Regions from separate parts of the Homo sapiens genome. Here region 2 is linked to region 1. The links come from fine-mapping of genetic effects on gene expression. A gene starts in region 1. The other region holds a variant in brackets. All regions are shown on one strand. Distances are between the middles of the regions.

Region 1 (2,913 bases):
ATGGCTTTCCAACATTTTTCATTGCATGCTCTATTAGTAAAATCATTTTGAACATGCACCACAGATATCTGCGTATTTATTCACTGATGATGTTTATGCAATAGTGTGTGTGTGTGTATTGTTTACTGTATTTATAGTGAAATTTCTAATAGAAGGTGTCCGCTGGGATGCAGGAATCCCACTAAACAAACACAAGGCAGACAGGGTAAGCATCATAATCCTCAGCTCACGGATTAATAGACTAAGATGGGAAGGGACTTGCCCAGGTCACACAGCCAAAAGTTGCAAAACTGGGGTTAAAACTCATATCCATACTTTCCAGCTTCTCAGATTCTTCATTCATGTGCCAAATATCCCTTTCTACTCATCAGAATTTGGGAATGGACCAGTCATAACAGTTTTTGGTGATTTCCACATTGTTTCCCTGTTTTACCTATTTTATCATTATTGCCTATAGCATAGGGTGTGCCATGCGATCAGGGTTCTGGAACTGGCTTCTAAAGAGCACTTATGAATGGGGATGAAGAACATCAAGGAATTAAAGATGCCAGAAAAGCAAATAGCCCCTTGGATTTGAGAACAGGAAACATGCACTTTACACGCCTCATCTCTTTCTGCCCCATCCAGCAAGCAGGGATGATGCAGAGACCTTCCCTGGGTCTCGCCATGCCCAGGAGTTAATGTGTTCTACAATGTATTTGTAGAAAGAAGATACTGCGTCTAGTAGAAAGAGATGTGATATGATTGACGTGGAGTGGCCACTCTTGATGCAGGAGACATGGCAATTGTACTTTCCTGTATGAGAATGAGGCCTGAAGGAAGGTTGCTTCCCTCAGTCTTTTCTCAGCAGAGGGGTTTTGTAAAACAAACCAAAACAAAACACAAATTCCCTGAAGCAGAATAAAGATAAAGAAACTTAAATATCTGGAAACAATGAAAACTGCAAGAGCCAAGAAACGGGCAGCTTAGGGGCCCCAGGAAGTGAGGTGGGATAAGGCAGAGATAGGCTTGGGGCGGAGAATCTGGAAGCTGTTGCTGTTTACATTCAATGTCCTCTCTCTCTCCAAGAGGTGGCAGGCCACTGCCCAATGCTGAAGTCACTGTTTAACGAAGGTGGAGCCTGCCTTTACCTGGTACACCCATATAAGGAAAAGCCTGAGGTCAGGAGTAAGCAGACACCAGCACTGCTCTTTCTCCAAGACGGCCGGCCATGCTCTCCTCCTCTGCCAGTCTCCTCCACCACTCTCTAACCTGAGAGCCTGTGGAACCTGCCCGTCTCCCCTCCTCCATCAGACACACCTGCCTAGGAAACAGGTAAGTTGTGCGTGGTCATGTCCCAGAGCTGTGGACCAAGGCAGTCCTCTAAACATTAGTGAGCATGTACAATTTTCTAGAGAGCTTCATGATGTCGCTTCTGAGTTCCCACCTCCCAAGGTACATATTCAGTAGCTCTGGAAGCTGGGTTTTTTTGATGCAGGTGGTCCAAGGATATGCTTTAAGAAAAACTAGGGCAAAGTGGGAGTTAATTTTCTAAGAGAATCTAATCCAAACTTTGCATATTTCATGCAAAGAGAGTATTTCTTAATCATTCTGTCACCTTCGATTTCTGATCATTCTAAGTTGTGACCTTGAGGGCTGTGTTCACCGTAAGGGACACATTGATGGCAGAAATCATGTCTTCTTTGTGCACTGATGTGTAGTTTCTGTTAGATAGTAGGTGCTTAATAAACATTTGCTAAAGGGAAGAATGGGACCTGGGCCCTTTGTTTTCTAATCATCTAGCTTATTAGTTATAGGAATGAAGTTGACAACTCTGGGTTAATCACAAAAGACAGATCATTACAACTTCAGAGATTCAGGAGGTTCCTATATGCCTCTAGTGGTGTCATGGTCACACACATGTGTCTCTGTAACTGCTAAAGTTATGTAATCTTTGAGATGTGATGCTGTTCTCAGGGAGACAGTTCCAGCTGCTCAGCTTGGACCCAAGTTAACCAGATTAGAATAAGTGCAGATATTTTCCCTCTATAGTTACAGTTGGGTCATGAACTACTGACTGTCCCATTTGTCCTGGGTCACAAACACAACTTTGGTTACCCCCGAGTGGCATTAACTAGACTTTCAATCAGATTATCCTCTTGAATTGTCTCACCTTTGTACCCACCTTGACATAAGTATTGTGGGTTTTTGTTGTTGTTGTTGTTGTTGTTGTTATTTTGAAGGTTGGAGGAGTGACAGCTGTAGGGAGGCTTACTTATTAGTAGATTGGTTGATGGAAATGTAATAATCTACCAACTGTGTAATAGGCAAAAGCTATATATAGCATGAGTTCATTATCCCATTTTGTAGATGGAAAAAGTGAGGGACCGGTGAGTGACTTGCTGCAAAAGTTTATACCAGATGCAAATGACAGAGCTGGAGTTCTGCTGTGCCTGGTAGGTACCCTGTCTTGTCCCCTAGTTATTTGGTTGTATTCAGTTACCCTCTTGAAAGAACACCTTAGAAGAAAAGATGCTATGAAGAAATGCACACATTAAGCCAAGCACTGTGGCTCACACCTGTAATCTCAACACTTTGGGAGGCCGAGGTGGACAGATTGCTTGATCCCAGGAGTTCAAGACCAGCCTGGGCAACATGGTGAAACCCTGTCTCTACAAAAATAAATTAAAAATTGGGGGTCTGGGAAAAAATATTAGCTACATGTGGTGGTGCACACCTGTAGTCCCAGCTATTGGAGGCAGGGGGAGGGGTCCATGGTTGAGGTGAAAGGATTGCTTGAGCCCAGGAGGTTGAGGCTTCAGTGAGCTATGATCATGCCACTGCACTCCAGCCTGAGTGACAGAGCAAGACCCTGTCTCAAAAAAAAAAGACCAACCTACTGGCCCTGAGGCTCACTCCGTATCAAGCATTGTG
Region 2 (2,913 bases), 210 kb before region 1:
ATAGGTCTTGAGAAAATTTAGGTTCATCTGTTTTCATTCCTTAAGTGCAGCTTTCATGAAATCTTACAGGGACAGAAACTTAAAGCCATTGTCTGCACAATCGTTATTTTTAGATTGTCAGAGTCTATAACACTTTTGTAGTGTTTCATGACCATTCCCATAGCTGTTTACTTTTAGTTTTGTAATTACATAGATTCAGTGCTCTACTGGTTCTTCTGCTCCATTCTTGGGTTTTTTATTTTGAACCACCTCTTCATTGACTGCATGTGGGAACAAAATTCATATATAAAGCAGAAATGGCATTAACAGAAAGAGCATGGGCCAGACAGACTGGGGTCCAAATTAGAAGTCTGCCATAGTGGATTCTAGTGGCTGCTTCAAAATGGGCTCATAGGTGCTGTCATCCCTGAGCTTGGATGTGGGAATATCACACTCCTGCTGTCCGTACTTGAACGGCACCTCAGCAGGTTAAAATGCTTCTGGTCACATTTGGACTCAGCCCCGTGGGTGTTGCTTCATTATCCGCTGACATGGAAAGCTGCCGCGGGGAAGTTTGAGGTCAGCTGAACATTTCCCCTTCTGTAGGTGACTTGTTGGTTCTGCCTGGGTGCTTGATGATTTCTTTCTTGCATTTGGAAGTTCGATACCTAAACCAGGAAACATCTTCGTGTCAATCCCTTTGTATCAATTTTTTATGGAATGTGGTGTGCAATTTTGATGTGCAGACTCAGATCTTTATTCATCTCAGGAGGTTTTTATTTAAAAAGATGAAGACTGTTTTGTGTGTTCCATCTGTTTCTCTGCTTCAGGTTCACCAGTTTTCTGATGTTGGATCACCTTTGCTCTTTCTATACATTTTATTCTCTCCTGTAGTTGCTTTAATAATTTAAATCTTTCTCCTCTGAGTCCCAGTGACTTGCCCAAGGTCCCACTGCTCAAGAGTGTCAGAGCCAGGACTGGAACCCTTTAGTTGGTATCAGTAATTAGATTTCCTGCTGTGCCTGCACTGCTTCTTGGAGTTTCAACATGTATTTATTGGTTCTGCAAAAGTGTTTTGTGGTTCTCAGTTTTATCATTCTTTATTCCATTGCTTTATTTAATCATCTAATCCTTTAGCTCTTATTTTATTAAATTCATGCTTTTAAGCTATTCCATAGCATGAAGCACGTTTGGGTAATTTCCTTCCATTTGTTTAGTTGTTTTTATTTAGACTGGGGTTTTTGTTTTGTGTGTGTGGGTGGTGTTGTTTTTGGATTTTTTTTCATACTGTGTTCCATTTTGTTGGTTTGTTTGGTTTTGGTTTTGGCCCCACCC[A/C]CACAGGGGCATGTTTGCATCATTGCCATGCAGTTCCTTTGCATCTTGCTTGACCTACACACCCTGATTCAGGGCAAGTTCATTCTTAACCCTTTTTTCACCATGTCTGAGCCTGTTCATTTCCTCCACAAGGCATAGTTTGAGGGCTGTGAGTTCTGTGTCTGTCCCCTTGTCTGTAGCCTGAGGGCCTTGGTGGAGTGAGGTGGGAAGGGAGAGCTGCACTGAGGCTGTGAGCAGTTTTTATTACCAACCTCTCAGAGAGAAAAGCCACACTCCTGCCTCCAGGACACACGCTGTTTTGTGGAAGAGACCCAATAAACAGGTAACTATAGGTGCTGCCATAAGAAGAGGGGACACTATTAGGTTGCAGGGACCAGATTTGCTTGCTTCCTTAAAGTCATGGTGGTGGCAGTTTAATGGAAGGATGCCAGTGTGTGGGAACCAGGGTTAAGCCAGACCAAAAGTCCAGGGCAGTACTTGCAGACCACGGCAAAGAACTTGGCCTTTATTCTGTGAGTGGGATCCAACCGTGTCTTAGAAGAGCCATTCCAGCAGCAGTGTGAAAAATTAAATACAGGTCTAAAGACATAAATCCCCAGCGCTTATCTGTTGGTCGGCTCTGCAAAGAGAATGAGGAGATATCTTCTGTACTGGAAACTGTCACCAAGGAGTAGAGAATTTCCTGAGCAGACTGGCGTTCCCCACCCTTCTTTGCCCCTGCCCGTTTCAAACACCTTCAGCTCCTGGGCATCAGCTGAAGAATGCCTAGCTTTTCCCCAGTGCTGTGGATCTCTGGAGATGTGTTTCCCGGCTGAGCGTTATGGCAGCCAGAGCCAGGCGGCACGTCCAGAGAACACATCTCAAGGTTGTTGTTTGAAGTACAAACAGAGCAGGGACCAATTATGGAGTCCCTCTGCACAGCATGCCTCCTGACTGTGCTCGGCATGGGGTGGGCAGAGGCTGGCAGAGCTGAGGAGCCAGCTTTGGCCCCCTGAGGGGTAGCTGGGAGGGAGAAGGGAGAGTATCATAGATTTATTTGCTGCCAGACAGGTCTGCCAGTGTGAGCTCATCTTTCAGAGAGGCGCCCTCTCCTCTTAACAGCCAGGTGCCTCCTGTGGCCCCAGGGTGGCACTGGATCCTAGATCCTGTGAGCAGAATTTTGCATCTATTTCTGGGGAAGAAAAGACCATGGCTTCTATTACACTGAAAAATAGGGCCCTGTCTCCTCAAATAGTTAAGGATGCCTCTGCTATGTAACCCCTATATTTTATAGGTGGGAAAAGTAACCAGAGACCCAGTGAGCAGAAATGGTTTACCCGAGGATTCAAGGTTGTGGAGGCCAGATCTAAAAGTCAGCTCTTACTGCCCCATGGACATACAACGTTGTCTTCACTTTGCTACCAAAGTGGTAGCTATTCTTTTTTGAGTGCTAAAAGTATGCCTGGCACAGAGCTTAGTGCTTTACTTATTTTAGTCCATTAGATCCGTAAAATGGCATCACAGTTTTGCAGAATAGACAGCCAGACAGCTAACTCTCAGTTGAGGGAGAGAGGTTAAGTCACTTCCCAAGGTCACAGAGACAGTAACTGGAGGAGAGAT

The links. PIP is the estimated chance that this variant, and not a neighbour inherited with it, causes the effect.
Region 2: its variant is fine-mapped to the expression of CAPN13 in whole blood (TOPMed, PIP above 0.99).

The regions. Positions count from the first base shown.
Region 1 is chr2:30,805,703-30,808,615 of GRCh38, reverse strand. It overlaps CAPN13 (calpain 13), which reads left to right and starts at 1,170. Exons shown (of 23, transcript NM_144575.3): 1 at 1,170-1,314.
Region 2 is chr2:31,011,117-31,014,029 of GRCh38, reverse strand. The region is part of intron 1 of GALNT14 (polypeptide N-acetylgalactosaminyltransferase 14); the gene reads left to right. Among named protein-coding and RNA genes, the nearest start is that of GALNT14, 130 kb to the left of the region's middle. The variant A/C (reference allele first, on the strand shown) is at 1,315.